2 separate regions of the Homo sapiens genome follow, and region 1 is linked to region 2. A link means that fine-mapping ties the variant in region 2 to the expression of a gene that starts in the linked region. Tissue or cell type: whole blood. Region 2 holds a variant in brackets; the other region holds the start of a gene. All regions are shown on one strand. Distances are from middle to middle.

Region 1 (8,090 bases), 80 kb before region 2:
TGCCTGAGACCACATTATTTGCAAGAAGATCCCTCTCTCCTCCACAGACTTTTCCCAGAGAATGCCTTTCAGAATTGCTGTTGAATTACAAAGAAGTATTTATTGTTTGAGGTGATTAATGATTCCTGGGAAAATTGCTATTTTCAGCGTGATTTAATTTTGTTTTACAAGTGTGTGTAGTAGGGGGAGGGTTAATAAGTTTCAGCAGCAGTTGCATTGCCTCCAGAAATCCCTGGCACCCGTTCACACCTTATAAAATGCACTTTATGCCAGGTTTATCCTGATTTGGGAAGGTAAGTGTGTATTTGATTGCTCCCGAATTTTCTTGGCTCTTCAGAGACTGGTATCTATCACTTTCCTCTCAAATCTGATTTGTAGGTATAGAACGGATCACCCTTGTTTGTATCACACACAGGGCAGCAGGGGTGAAAGGGGTACCAGCTCTGACACTGGCTAAAGGGTTTTGCCACTAATGAGAGAAATGTGTTTAAAAATTCTCTGATATTGCAGAGGCAGGTGAGCACTTACTCCCATCTATGCTAAAATTACTACATTACTTAAAAGTTGCACTTTTTCAAGGCCAGGTGACAGTTCTAATATTCTGGGGCTAGTGTGCACAGGTTTTTGTGGTCTTATTGTAGGGAACTCCCTGCAGTAAGCATCAAATCTAAATCAGTAAACAAATACTAGGGTTATAGAGATCGAGAAGTGGGTTTTGATTTTCAGCCTTTTGGATCTAGATCTCTGGAATCGAGCAGAAAATTCACAAAGCATTTGAGGAAAGTGACCCAGTTTGGCTATTTTCCAGCAGTAAACTCTCCCAGGTCTACTTTGCATGGGGTGAACTTTAGGGGTATATTATGCTTTTTCCTCAGAAGAGACATTGGAGAGTGTACTTGTAAAATTCAGTTTATTTGAAAGCTCTTTCTTCAAAAAAGAGAAACAAACAAGCAAACAAACAAAAATTCCCAGTCTGTAGTTAGTGAAGAGGACCTTAAGAACAGCCAGGAAACAAAAACTAATCTCAACCCTTTGCACAAACTATTTTTTATCTCCTGGGAAACAGGCAGATTAAGTGTGAAGGTGCAACAAATACCAAATACCAAAGAGACCACTTCTTTCCAAGTGTGCTCAGAGTTCAGTGTGTAGAACAGCTGCAGAAACTCCTGGGCCCACAGCACTGCATGGTTTCAACTTTCATTGCAGGGAAGGACACGTTTCTATGCCTTACAGAGACTTGAAGCCTGAAAGCCTGGCCAAGTTTGGGAAGAAGAGGAGCCCTCTCAGAGCTCAAGAGCCTTCCTACTCTTTGGAACTTTTCCACAGTAGGCCAAGCTTGACAAGAGTTCAGCTCAAGTTGAACATACATACACACACTCTCACACACAAATTATGTGAGCCGTCAGAATCCAAGTGAATCCAGCTCAAGCTATCTACAAGGTTTTTACATGCAAGGTCAAGTATCTCAATCCAGAGGACTTTTGTTTTCTTAATGAAAAGCTTAGAAAACACATGAATCTTAGATTTTTAATGTTTTTTAAATGGAGTTTATTCTTAGCACATGGCTTTCTATGTAGCCACATCACAATTTGTACAGTTCCACATAAGTCTAAATGCACTCCCCTCTCCCCAAAGACCGTGCCCCAGAAGGGGACAACAGTATCTCTGTAACAGTGTCTTAAATAAATGCAAGTAAGAAAAACTAACATGTCACACCTACCATCAAGGTCTACACATCTTAAGAATTAAATAATCTTGTGAGGTCCACAATGTCTACTCATTTATTCAGTTAAATACAAGCTTGGATGAGCTGCCTTAATGGGGGAAGAGGAGGTAAGGAAGGTGGGGAAAGGGTCTGTCTTCTTCTGCTTTCAACAAAGATGCAAGTGTATGTCCCCACTCAGCATGGGCTGTCCAGCTAGCTGACTGTAGCCATCTCAAAAGTATTTGATACCAAGTAGTCCTTCTCAGGTATCCACACCTGGCAGCCTTGTTTCGGGCCAGCAGGTTGTTCCACCAGCCAGCATCCTGGACAACTGTTCTCTCTTGGGTGGCAACCAGCACAGACTCTTAACCGGATAATGTCTTCTTTTTGATTATTCTTTTCACCAATTTGGGTTTGTTTTGGTGTCTATTATGGTCCAGATGGGGAGGGGTGGATGAGGAACGGAGCAGGAGAAGAGAAGAGAAAAGCAGGTAAGGGATAGAAACTGGTTAAGATCTCTAGAAGATTATATGGAGGAGGGAACGGGTGTGGAGGTGCTCGGGTGGGGGTGGGGATGGAGGTGTGGGCTCTGAGTTTGTGCTTTCCCTGGTGGGCCGGCAGAGGCCGAGGCCGAATTGGAGGATCGCATCTTGGTGTTGGGCAGTTTGTGGTCTTTCTTCCACTTCATCCTCCGGTTCTGAAACCAGATCTTGACCTGGCGCTCAGACAAACAGAGCGTGTGGGCGATCTCGATGCGGCGCCGCCGGGTCAGGTATCGATTGAAGTGGAACTCCTTCTCCAGCTCCAAGACCTGCTGCCGGGTGTAGGCGGTTCGAGAGCGCTTAGGCTCCCCTCCGTTATAACTGGGGTTAACTGAAAACCCAGAACCCCGAAATAGAAGGCCAAGGAGGAGGGAGCGGAAGAGAGGGAAAGGAGGAGGAGAGAGAAGGTGGGGTGGGGAAGAGCAATTGGACATCATCATTATATAATAACCTGACACCAAGTTCACGCAAGATACATAAAACGGCAAAGAAAATGTTTCACAGGCTATTGACAACGGGAAACACCCGAGAGCCATAAAGAATGGTGCTGGGCATTGGGGCTGAAGAAAAGCTTCAAAGACACATGGCCTGAAGCCTCTGCCAGGGCAATTAAATTTATGGGGGCTATAATTACTGCCCTAACAGTTTGGCGTCTCGTAAATCTCCTGATAAAGGGACCCTGGGTACAAAAGGGTTCTCATGTTGGGATCAGGCGGCTGGCTGGCGCGCACATACCCACATCTCACCGCAGCCCGGGTCAGATGGGGGCTCCCCTCCCGAGGCCCCCTTCCCCTGAGCCTCTCCCTCCTGACCCCGACCCTCGAACCCAGGCCCAGCCCCGGCCCACCTCCCGCGCCTCCCAAGCGGCGCCACGTACCGGCGCTGACATGGATCTTCTTCATCCAGGGGTACACCACGGGCTCCTTGCCCTTCAGGCCCAGCGGGCTCTTGTCGGCCAAGAGCAGCGGGCACGCGGGGGCGCTGCCCCCTGCCGGGACGCCTGGGGTGGCGGGGGCCGCCTCGCAGCGCCGCGGGGCCGCTGGGGGCACGGCGCGAGGCTGCAGGGGCGGCGGCAGCTGGGGCTGCAGGACGTGGCTCGCATGCAGGCCGTGCGCTGGGCCCTTGGCTTGCGCCGGGGGCTGCTCGGGCTGGGGCGGCCGCCCGGGGCTGGCGCCGCCGCGGTAGCCATAGGGGTAGGCGGTGTCCGCGGCCCCATGCGCGGGGTACAGCGCGGCAGCAGGGTAGGCGGGCTCGCGGGCGGTCCGCGGCGCGTAGTAGGAGGCAGTGGGCTCTCGGCCGCCGCCCGCGTGAGGGAGCTGGGGCTGCTGCAGCGGCAGGTGCTGGGTCGGGGGCGCTGGGGGCTGCTGGTAGCCGGGGCCCCCGCCCGGGCCGCCGTCTGCGCCGCCCGAGCCGCTGTGCTGCGCGTACTCCTCGAAGGGAGGGAACTTGGGCTCGATGTAGTTGGAGTTTATCAAAAACGAGCTCATGGTCATTAATTTGTGAAGTGCAAAAATACTAATTTTTCTCGCGTTGTCGTTTTTTCTGGGCTTGCCGAGGCCCCTCCCCCTCCTGCCTCGCTTCCCATCCCCCTTTCCTCTGCGCCCTTCCCCTCCCCCCGCTGTCAAGTGCCCACTCCTCCCCCTCCCGCAGACGCCGCCACCAAAGTTCGAGCCGCTCCTCCCCAGCCCAGCGCGCGCCCCGCCCCGTGCCCCACGTGCAGCGCCCCCACCAATGGGCGCACCGCGCGCGCGGACCCGGATCAGGAAACGCGCGGGTGCGTGATGGATGCTGCTGTCCGGCCCCTGGGCTGGGGGAGGGAGCAGGAGCTTTGGACCCCAGCCCCCCAGCTTTGGTTCCCGCTGGGAATTCAGGCCCTGTCAGGCTGTAGGTCCTCTCGGGAGCCCTCTGCCTGCCCTACTGCTGGCCTAGGCCTCGGGCTGTCTGGCGGCCGCGACTCAGCGCTGACCTCGGGCGCAACCCAGTCAGGCTTCGTGTCCTTCAGGGGTTCTAGGCTAACAGGCGAAAGGAAGGGCGTTGGGACCGAGGGGCATCCTGGTTTTTATGTACGCCACTGAGAGGCCACCAGACACATTTTCTCAACCGCAGATCCCCCTTCCCCACACCCTGCTCCTTGCGTGTCAGCCTGAGAGCCCTTGCTTTGAGAAGCTTGGCAGAAGCTGCAAAGGGTGGGCGGGCAGCTAAGAGAAATCGACCCAAGGATGTAAATCGAGGCCATTCCATTATAACTGGATGGACACTTTTCATTTTTTCCTTCTTTCAGAGACAATCTGTTTCGTGTTTTCCTAAGAAAAATTGGAACCTTCGTAATAGCATCTAATTTGACGGGGGTTGTCGATGTGAGAGCTAAATATGCCCGCATTTACTAGGTGCGATTGTGAGAGAGAAGGTGGCCCAAGGATGGGAATGGATAGAAGCAACACCTCCACAGAACCGAGCTTTGAAAACAATAACTTCCTATTTCAGAACTATCCCCAAACAAAAACAAGCTAAGGGTAGAATAAACACCTTGCCGGGTCTGATCGCTGATGGGTCTTTTCCAGCTAAGAATTTCATGTTTTCTCTTTTAGATCCTGCTTTCTCAGGCAGTATCTGAGGCTAGAGTTATATTTGCAGGACAGTCTATAATTTCTGAATTGCTGAAAATTAGCGTATTAACGATATCAGAAGCTCCGGAAAGGAGGGAGAGGAGACTGTTGCCTGCTATTTGGTAATTGAAATTTGATGGGTACACTAATTACGCCATTATTAACAAATAAATTACTTATTAATTCCACCTAATGTTGATCTTTGAAGTAAATACTGATGCCTTATTTGTGCTGTGTGCTTTCTCCCTTTCTTTTCTGAGTAGTAGACATATCTAGATCCTCTACTTTTCAGCCTAAATTAAAGCAGTGTAAACTAGCATAGTCACCATTCTAAAAATATTTTCATATTGGCATGCAAAAGCAAGGATTTTTCAGCTGGTGCACCTTAGTTGATTTTTCAAAGAGCAGTATAAACAGCCTTCTCACAACTGAGTCTGGAACGCAGACAAGGAAAATTATTTCCTAAGCCTGGAGACACTTGAAAAGGAATGTCAATTCTATCTTCATTCATACTGGTTACTCATATGAGTTACTAAATGCTGGAATATATCCATTTGATGGATAGTCACTTAATGCTTAGCCACATAAAGCCTATTATATGGGACTAATCTTTAAACTAATTTAGGAAAAGAGGTTAAAAAGGGGATCATATTAGCTTTCTAACTGGAATCACCCTGAAGAGGTACAAAGAGATTTTCCACGTTAGGTGTATATGAGTGTGAAGAGTGCTGTCCATTCACATGAGGCACCCTGAAAATTTGTTTTTAAAGAAATTTGAGCCACAGACAGAAATCAACACTGAGTGTAATCTTTAGCCATCCTCTCTAGACTGGAGGAAAAATTTAGAATGTGATACATCTACCTGAACCAATATCTCTCCCTAGCAAGAAAAAATAATATACACATAGGTTATATAAAATGTAATATAAATAATATATAGACATACGTATTACAAATCTGAACCCTATAAGTTTCAGGGGGACAAAAAGCATGACAAGGAAATCTTCCCTCCTTCTCATGTCATCAGCCTTGAGTACTAGGGTCTTAACCATATCTGTTTAATATTTACAGACACTAAAACACAAAATTCTGTTGTTTAGCCTCAGAACCTTGTACCAAGTTTCTATTTTTAAGTATTAACGAGACATAAACACTGTTTTGTATACGGTTAACCCAAACGAGTTAGCTGTGCCTGTGTTTTGTGTGATTCTATTACTTTAGGAAGATGGCCTTACACAGAATCCCCCAAGGCCTGTAACTTGTCTTTGTGGTTCGTATCATAAACACAAACGGAGCCAGGACCACCAAGTGTTATCTCAACACCGACATTTTGACATTTTACTGCAAGATTTATGGCTGTAATAAACAATCTCAGTACCTTTTCTGAACCTTCCTCAATCTCCCTTTGCAAACCATAGCATCATTCCATTGAATCAAATAATCTTTTGAAAAACATTTAAAAAAAATACCTCTTGCCTTTACACAATATCCAAGACACCAAAGTAAAGCCAGGAAGAAACTAACTCAATTAATAAACAAACTGAAGTTTACCAGCAGCATCTCGCCTGAGAAAAGATGGGATGCCCTGAAATGTAGCAGAGAGGGAGCATGCTAATCCTCACACACCAACTGGCTCCAGTCCCAAGCGGGGTGAAAGCGTTATCCTTTCCTTAGGAAACTGGTGAGCACGTTTGCTCATTTCCACGTGCAGGGATAACATATATTCCCAACAAAAGCTTTCTTAAAATCCCATTAGGTGAAATAACTTTTCATCATGTCCTCGAATCCCAGATGGAGAAGAGTGAAGGGAGTCGGAGGGAGAGGGAGGGTGCAAGGGAGGCAATGTTTTGCAGCTTGGTTTGAATCTGATTTGAATCATTTTGAATATATTTGTAACAGCATTCCCTCTTGAATGCAACCCTGTCCCAAGTTTCAAAGTGACCGAACAGTGACACCGTGTGCATTTTGTTTCTTATTAATCTTACACATTGACAGTCTTTGTTAAATCACAAGGCGCGCCCTTCACTAGCCGACATTTTCATATTTGTTAGACGCACTGACCTGAAGTTCACCTCGGCCTTGGACTTTGCGCTTCTAAAAGGTCTATACAGTGTCTTTTAGAGAGCAGGGTGCTTTGCCCAGGTCACTCCTTCTCAGGAAAAACCAAGGGGAAAAGCCAAAGGAAATGTAAACGTTATGGAATGTATTGACTGTATTTGTCCTTTGTTCTTTAGAGCGAGAGTCCCCCAGACTGTTCTCTATCTGATGCATGTCTCTAGAGCTGAACAGTGGAATGGCAGAATTTCAAAACGCCTGATGGTGGCATTTGAAGGCTTCCCCACCACCTACACTAGACACAAGATTTGAGAGGAACAACACTTTACCAGCCATTTGACCAATTAATTCTTTGGGGATAATTTTCTTGTAGTAGTTTAAAATAATGCACACAACGCAGGGATGAGGACTGATATTCATATTGGGATTACACATGAATTTTAACTGGGATTGTTTGAGAGGCCTGAGGTTCAAAATCCTCCAGATAAAGCAAGCACACTAAAAGCAATAAATTCTGCAAGTACTCTTTTCTTTTACTTTGAAGACTAGCTAAGAGGTATCTATGGTTTTTGAAGCTGACATGTCTATAAGGTGTGTCACATGTTTTTAACCAAAAAGCACAATAAAAAGGTTTTTCCCAAAGAGACACGTAATTGTCTTGTTGACTCATCGAGGGGTTTCAGTTTTCCTCATTTCACTAGCCCAAATGTGGTGAAATGTTCACTGCTGCAACAGCAATCACCACAGTTGTTTCCTTTCTTCTGTTTCATCTGGCAAACCCCCATTTGGCTTCAAGCTCTTGGCCAGAGTGAAAACTTTACACATTGCACAGAAGCACCCTGATTACTTCCATGAAGGCAGTGTTTGGAAAATATTTACTTTACCACTGAACATACCTGGCACCATTAAATCCAATCAACCAAAATATTGGGATGATCTTAAACATTCCTGCAAGAGTCCACATTCTGAGTAGATGAATTATTTCCAAAGTTAAAAAAGAAAAACCTAGGGAAAATATTTCACTTTTCTCTTCTCTGTTTTCCTATACTGATCCCTTGAAGGTCAATTCATAGAAAAGGGAAATATGTCCTCTGGAAAATAGATTCTTACAGCACCAACACTTAAAGCCATTCTAGATGCATGAAAAATAAAATATTGTTTAGCTCTTCAGTTGCAACTCAC
Region 2 (8,100 bases):
TTATGTTACTTTTTTATATGAGAGAATCGTCCTTTAATAGAAAATTTCTATTGCTGCATCAGAATTATGGAGGAACACAAAAAACATACCTCAGTCCTTAGTGTGTCCTAAATTAACACATATTCACTTATTAGTGGGTAAATGACTATATTTCATTTCAGCACAACTTCTCCCCTGGTAGAAACACAAAAGAAATTTCTAATGATTAAACTAGGAAAGTTTGCACTGAATTGATGGCTTATCAGAGCAACCGCAGTTTTCAGGAAGAAATTCAATGCCATGCGTTGAAAATATCCCCCTAGCAATAAGGGATTATTTTTAAAAAAGAATGAATAAAGATGTTCTGGTTTCTTTTGTTTTAATCTGGTAGTCTCATTTACAACGAGCATGATTCTCCCTGTCGAACTCTGAAAGTGACTTAACTGAAAGGCTTGGCAACTTCAGAAAGCAAAAAGGTAAAAACAGAAAATAGCACACGGTTGAATTTGACAACTTTTACACTACCCGGCTGCTTAATAAATTCTAACCCCACTTGTCTGAGTGGATACTGATCATCTTTTCTATGGCAGTATTTTGTATTTGGGTTGTTTATGGTTTCTTAATTAATTTTTTTGAGTAGTGATTAAATATCTGGGATGCTTTTACACTAAGCATATAAATTCTCATGGTATTAGAAAAGAGCTATTTGATGAAACTCATAAGGGGTATGTAAATTAAAAAAGAGAAGAAAGTGTGTGTACATATTTTACAATAATCTCGAACGACTCCAACTATATGTTGCAGAAGCCATGAGCTCTCTGCCCACTGTCTGTGGGGTATCAGCAAGATTGACTCCTACCAAGCCTTGGGCACAGTGGTGGGTTTAAGGGTCCCATGTCTCCAGATCCTAAGATGGAGTTCACCGCAGGGGTGAGGGCTCGGGTCAGGGTAAGGGTGGGGACTGCAGAAGTCAAACAATTCGGAGGAAGAGGGAGAGGGGAAGAGAGAAGCCACAGACAAGCCAGGAGACAAAGAGGAAGGGAGAGATGGGAGGGAGAAGAATAAGAAGCAATGAAACTGTAATTCTCCACAAAAATTTAAGCTACAGCAGCTCAAAGAAGGCCTGTTTTTAAAGCTTAGCAGAAGCCCATTCTCCGCTGAAGCCTGTTCTTTGTGGAAGCCTGGCTGGGGGGCAGTGGGGGCGGTGCCACTGTCGAGTGTTCCTTGCCATTTAGGTCCAAAGCCTCCCTGTGATTTCTGTAACTGCACAAAAACAATCTGGGCTTTAAGAACCTGATTATTGTCCAGAGTTAAATGCAGGCTCGACCTTCTGCCCATAGAGAGTCCAAACGCATGAATTCCTGCTGGTATCAGCTTCGGAGGCAGAGGTCGCGAGCTGAGCTTGGGACAACCCTTCAAGCCTGCTAGCAATTACCTGCTCTCAGCCACTTTTAAAAGGCCATATTTCTTTACATTTCTAGGATCTAATGTGAGGTTATGTCAGGTCATGGGACCCTAGGCTGGTGCAAAGTAATTTGATGTCACCAAGAGCAAGCAGACTCGTTTGTCACCCTGAGGAATAGAAGTCCCTGTGATTTCTGCTGGGAGCAGAGCAGGGTTGCTTGGCTGGGGGTGTGGAATCCAGACAGGGGTCCAGTGTGGGCCTAACCAGGTGAGCTGGGAGGGGACTTTCTGGATCGTGTGTGTGTGTGTGTGTGTGTGTGTGTGTGTGTGTGTGTGTGTATGTTTGTCTGTCTCAGGTTGAGAGGATTAAGGGATCAGCTCTGCTCCAAGCTCACACAGCAGCCCATTGGAACTCAGCATGTGACCTGGACTGATCCAGGCCCTTGGATCCCAGGTTCACTTGTGACATGATCTGGGTCTCAGTTTTTCTGAAGCTAAATCTGGTTAGCCCACCTGCAGTCCTTTCTTCCCCTAGCCCTTACCCACTGCTACTTTAATAGTCTGTAGCTGATTAAATAAAACAACGGAGTCTTCCTACCTGAGGTTTATCCAGCCATTAGGTGATTGGTGGGAGCACAGAAGGAGTCATAGCCCTTGTACCCCTTTGGGGAAACACTTCTGTGAGTGATAAGAGACGGCTAATGTCTCAGTGAAGGGCTTCAAGGCATTTGCTAGAATGGCCTCTTCCACTATTTCCAGTTCTTCCATTTTTTCAAGGGGGGTGGGGGTTGTAGGGGGTTGTGTAACAAAGCCAAAGAACAGGGTCCCTTAAGCCTTCATTTGAGAATCAGGGAGAGTGCGAACCCTGGAGGAGTATGGGTAGGCAACTTGATGGGTAAAATGGAAAAGGAAGAGGCCGCTTCCCAGAGGCCTGGCCGATGCTAGGTCCCAGAGACTTGAGCATGACAGGGTGGGGGGCCTCCTACAGAAGCCCTGGAAACTCTATCGGTAGAGCTGCCTGTGGGGGCTCCACAATGTCCTGGGATTCATACATTGAAATGTGGAGCATGGTTCCTTGGCCTTCTATATCATTCCCAAAAGGAGTATACTGGTGCCACTCTTCCTGACAATTCTAGGATGATCTAATGCCACAACTAATAGACTGAGAGAGCCTGGGCAACATGGAGAAACCCAGTCTCTTTAAAAAACACAAAAATTAGCCAGGTGTGGTAGCATGTGCCTGTGGTCCCAGCTACTGGGGAGGCTGAGGTGGGAGGATTGCTTGATCCCCAGCAAGTTGAGGCTGCAGTGAGCCATGATAGTACCACTATGTTCCAGCCTGGGCGAAAGAGTGAGACCCTGTCTCAAAAAAAAAAAAAAAAAAAAAAAAGACTGAAGGAGAGAACTCAGACTCAGACTCAGCCAAAGTGGTCAGCAAGGAGGCACACCCCTACAAGGCGGACCCCATTTGAAGCAGGCGAAGGCACCCAATAGAGAACCTGCAGTGAGCATCTCAGAGGCACATGGAGAGGCCTGCACAGAATTCTCTATCTTTTGGCCATAAGGTTAGGAGGTGCTGGTGGGGCCAGAGGAGCTCAGATAAGAGCCAGCTCTCTATATGTGGGGCTCATTTCCATGGGGTTGTGAGAGAGGCCAATCCTTCACAGAAATTAGAATCTGGATGCAAGAAGGCAGCCAGGATCAGATCTGGCCAGATGGCCCCACGGCAGAGATGGGGAAAATGTCACCTTCGAATCCTAAGAAGCTAGGCTCCTGTGCTTTGCCAAAGGCCTCGTGGGCAGCAGTCTGTAGCTCCAGCGGTTTTGCATGCCAGCCTCTGGACTCACTTAACTTCTGCAGCAATCTGTTGGTCCCCAGAGCCACTCTGCACCCTCCAGGAGAACCTACATATGGGCGCTCCAGGGATTTGCCCGCATTAGGATCAGGAG[C/G]CCCAGGAAGAGTTAGATGGGAATCCAGGCATCCTGGGCCCTGTGCTTTCGGTGGACAGCTAGATCTTTCTTGTCAAGGTGGAAATAGCGTCTCTGCCCTGGGTGGGAACCCAGACCCAGCCCTGCAATCACGCAGGCAATAAAGTAAGCACTCCACTGTCGACGGGGAGGCCAGGGAGAGAGAGGCTTCTCTTTGAGGCCTCCCACCCCCATCCAATCCAGGAGGTTGCAGTCGCTGTGGGCGGCGGCGGAGGATGCTCGCAGGACACCGCTGCAGTTGCGACCTCTTCCCACTAGATGTCTTCCCAGTTAATCGGAACTCAAGGGCGCTGTCTCTGCTCCTCGGGCCGAGACTCGGTTTCCCCTGCCGCTTTTTGAAGTCTAGCATTCCTCTGTGAAAGCTGGCTTTTCCCTTTTTTTCCTATACTCCCCTTCCCGCCCTGCGCTCTAAATCCTGGCTCTGGAAATCCACCAGAATCAAATGCTGGCTCCCTGCGGGCCCGCGTCGGAGCGGCTCACGCCATTGGAATCTTTTTATGACCTTTGATGTGTTTAAATAACATGGCAAGTCTGAGCACACACCTCGGATTAAACTTTAATCGGCTGCAGTCAAGGTCGCCCAGGTGGTAAAAGCGTTTCCTCCGACGTCTCCTGGCAGACGCTGCGGGGTCCAAGGTCTGGGGCAAAGCCCTAGGCCCCCGCCATACCCTCCTGCCTCTGTCAGGCCTGGGTGGGGGCCAGGCCCAGGGCCACCCCATCGAGCTCCAAAGAGGACTAAGGAAATGGGATCGGAGGTAGACACTCAGGGTGGGCTAATGACCTGAGCACAGTTTTTATAGCTGCTAGACAGAATAGTTAAAAATTCCAAGAAGCACTTTCAATTTCCCCTGACTCCAGAAACTGGTTGAAGGTCTAGTCATGGTCAGTGCCTTATTGCCTCCTCCCCATGGCTCTGCTCCCCTAGGGAGAAAGGGGGTGCTGGTAATGATGTTGCGGCCAAGTTAGCTGACTGTTTTTAAGGTCACCAAACCCATTAACTGTGGGCCAGGATCTAGAACCCAGGCTAAAGCAGCCCTTCTGTGTGTCAGGCTAGACAAGGTTGGCTTCAATTTTATCTGGGATGAGCATATCTTTCTGAGCCAGTATACCTGTCATGGAGAATTGTCATGGGCAGTATTTAGGAAAAGCTCCAAGAACAGGGCAGCATATGTAGTGAGAGCTTACCACTGTGCTTTTAAAAAAGAAGGAATGTACAAAAGGGCTAGAAGGACAGACAAGTCATCAGTAACAGTGCTTCCCCTGGGAAGAACTGGTGTTCAGAGGATCTGAGTAGAGAATTTTTTTTCTATAAAATCTTTTTGTAGTGTTTGTGAAGTGCACCAATTGTATGTATTAGCTATTGAGGTTATACTTTTCAGAAAACTGGTTACCCTATGTATCTCATGGCCACATATTCCTTTGGGGAATTTCCTCCACACATCATACCAGCCTTGGATTCAGGGGAGAACACTGAAATAAGTTACCCCAAGGCTTGAATCTTAGTCTTACGGACATCAACTCAGATTTCCATCCCCTGGGAGAGGTTCTCAGGCCTCTCTCTCTGGGCTTACCCCTAACTTGTAAATGAACATGCCAGCCCCAGCCATTCACAAAAGAGAATGCGTTGTCTCAAAACGAATTAAAGCCTGATCTTCAATTTTCCCCCAATCCCTGAGTGCCTAGGGGTTTGCAGAAAAGGCCCACAAATGCTCCTCCAGACCAGAGATTCCCACAGCCCCTTGACATGTATATTTGGTTTGTCAATTCTTGTCTTGAAGACACTATCAAGTGTCTTCAAGGGCCACATACTAGACTGACCTGTTGATCTCTTGACTTAGAGATAACACTATCACTGTCTAAAATTAGTTCTCATAGTGCTTCTTCATGGCCTTCTGGGGGCTGCTAATACTCTTTATCTTGATCTTTGTAGTAGTTACACAAATGTATACATATATAAAAATTCAGTGAACTGGGGGCTTAAGATTTGTATGCTTTGCTATACGTAAGTTATATGGCAATAAAAAAATTTTTAAGTGCTTCCTCCTAACAACCTGTGAGGTTGGTCCCAAGGTTATTACAATCATCTCCATTTTACAGACAAAGCAACTAAGACTCAAGGGAAGCTAGGGTCCCAGGCATCTGTGGAAGAAAATAACCAGCCAGAGACTAACCAGCAGCTTCTTCCTCTGGGTCTTGCTGCTTCAATATCCAGCTTTCTTTTCCAGCAGATTTCTCAGGTGACAGGAGCCGGTTCAGTATAGAGAGGCTCTTTTTAGAGAGATTGTGAGGTAGGAACATGTGGTCTGAGTCTTCAAATTTTTTAGTCTTGGCGTAGGGAGTCAGGGAGGGCACGCGCCCAGAGGGTGTGGGGCCTAGAGGGCCCCACTTGTGTGCCTCTAATGAGGAAGAGGGCCCTCAGGGCTTGGAACATATTTTCTTCTTATTCCAGTCCTCCAAGCCCACACGCACCCGAGGCTCAGGAGACCTCTTCAGGCGACCGCACCCTTCCGCTGAAGTCCCCCACTTCTGCCCCTCCGAGGTGGGGTGGGGGTGTTCTGAAATAACGGTGGCTGCAGTTAGATGGCTGAGGACATAGAAAGCGGTTGTTATTTATTCCAGGCACCATCACAAAAGGCTTCCAAAAATATCGAGCCGAGATATTTTATTGTCCAGCCTGTCTGCAGCCTGTAATTATGCGTTCAAGATGTTTAATGTGTGCAAATGCATTAGCCGCTTTCGCTGGTGAAAACCCTAGCTGGGGGCGGGGTAGAGGCAAGTCTGGAGATAATTATGTCGTACAGTCGCAAACATTATTCCGTTCTTACTGTAAACGGCCCCGGCCACCTTTACGAGAAACCAGGAAACTTCTGAGAGTTACTAGCAGCGTTTACGCGGGCAAACTGAGTTCTTTTTCTTTCTCTCCCGGATTGTTCGAAGTATCTATCGGGCGGCTTCGATGCCAGGTTCAGAGGCGCGCCAGGGAGAGGGCGCCCCGCAGAGGAGCGCAGCGGAGAGGCCTACGCAGGTCCCCGGTGCCCGCGGCCCTCGGAGGCCGGGCCCTGCGTCTTGGCCAGGCACTGGGTGGCAGCTGAGGCTGGTGGCCCGGAGCCCTCGCGGCCGCGGGCAGGCCCCTTCTTGGGCAGGGTCGGGCACTCCCGCTGTCCAGGGCTCTTCGGCACCCTCCTTCCAATCAGGTCGCTCTCCCCTGCTCCCCAGACTCAACTCCTCCGAAGCTGCTCCAGGTTGAAATGTGACCGCTAGGCCGACTCCCTGGGCCCGCGAGCAGTTCTCGAAAGGTGCGGACTGAGCCCTTTCTGGGGTGGGGTGCGGGTTGGTTCTCGCAAGTGTGACCCAGGGTGAACTTGCTATTTCGGGTCCCGGGTGCTGCAGGGCCAGGAGAACAGCTGGGATGGGGGACCCCCGCCTCCACCCTCGGGCCGGCACGTCCGCGCCCTGTCAGGTCCCCCTCCCTCCTCTATGATGGCCAAGGCGTGCGCCAGGGCTATCCGGGAACCTTGTAAGGCCTCGTGCTGGCACCTAACCCCACTCGCGGCACACTTCCTCTATGTAGTCTGCGGCCCCGCCTGCCAAATGAGAGTGACCAGTGCAGGGACAGAATGCCAGGCTGGTGGCCGACCGCCTGAGGGACAAAGGCGAGCATTCACAAGCCAACAGCAGACCCCTGCCCCCCATATTTCCATTTCGCTCAGGCTTTTAGGACAAAATCAACAAGGCCGCAGAGTGGTGCAGGCGCTCACCCCGGGTGACAGCCTGGGGAGCCACTGGTTCCGCGACCCTGGGCATGAAACTCCTCAAGGGCGGCCCTCGAGACGCAGGGGAGAGGATGCTGCCGGCGCCTGCCCGAGGGCTTCTCTGCGGGAAGCGGGCAGGCACCCCACCGGAGTCATTGCCGGGACCCTCAGCGCAACGCGGGCCTGTGTCCTCTCGTTTCTCTTTAGAAAAAGACTGGATTTTAAGACTCGTTTTAGGCCAATGATTTAAAACAAAACCAAACCAAACTACTGGGCGCTCGAGGAGTAGTGTGGGACACATTTAAAAAAAAACTTGTGTGGGATCCAGGGTGCATTTTCTGGGGCCTGGCAGCGCTGCTGCAGCCCCAGGGCATGGAGAACAGGGGGACATGGAAAGATCTGGGAGGATGATGAAACCCCAGGGAGGGAAACGCTCACACAGAGAGGAAAAACAAAACCCACTAGACGTGATTTGTTCCTGCTCCAAATGAATCATCTAAAGAGAATCCCTCTGGGCTACATTTACTGGGGCTTAGGGTCTGGGGCCCTCAGATCCACCAGTGGTGGGGGTAGTTCCCTGAAATTTGCACTCCCAATCTCCCCCGTGAAGGTGCAAGCTGTAGCTACAAAGGGAAAAGGAGAGGAAGAGGCTAGTAGGATTCCTGGGTGGCTGCAGCCCCAAAGTAAACCCCATGCTTTGAGTGCCTCTGCATAACAAAGTTTCCCAGGCCCCCCAGACTTGGAGGGGGGTGGTTAGTTATGCAGCAACTAGACGTTTGGGAACAGCAAGACCCTGGCAGGAGGTGCAGACTAAAGCTTTCAGGTTCCTACCTCTTGTTCTTTCCTACCCCCTGTGTCTGCCTTTCTCTCTGCCACCTTTCCAGAGACTCAGGCCTCCAGGAGCAAGTGGCTTTGCTCTGAGGCCCTACCTGGATGGGCCAGAGAGACTGGGAAGTTTAAGGACAGGTCTCACACTT

The links. PIP is the estimated chance that this variant, and not a neighbour inherited with it, causes the effect.
Region 1: HOXA4 starts here. The variant in region 2 is fine-mapped to the expression of HOXA4 in whole blood (TOPMed, PIP above 0.99).

The regions. Positions count from the first base shown.
Region 1 is chr7:27,126,994-27,135,083 of GRCh38, forward strand. HOXA4 (homeobox A4) reads right to left here and starts at 3,764. Exons shown (of 2, transcript NM_002141.5): 1 at 3,125-3,764; 2 at 1,532-2,578. The coding sequence starts at 3,740. The coding sequence ends at 2,232. It overlaps HOXA3 (homeobox A3), which reads right to left. Exons shown (of 6, transcript NM_153631.3): 3 at 1-77. HOXA-AS2 (HOXA cluster antisense RNA 2) reads left to right here. Exons shown (of 4, transcript NR_122069.1): 4 at 1,207-1,767. RefSeq lists a silencer at 3,922-3,991.
Region 2 is chr7:27,206,898-27,214,997 of GRCh38, forward strand. It overlaps HOTTIP (HOXA distal transcript antisense RNA), which reads left to right. Exons shown (of 3, transcript NR_037843.3): 3 at 1-362. Among named protein-coding and RNA genes, the nearest start is that of HOTTIP, 11 kb to the left of the region's middle. RefSeq lists enhancers at 3,450-3,950, 3,951-4,451, 6,007-6,756, 6,757-7,505. The variant C/G (reference allele first, on the strand shown) is at 3,333.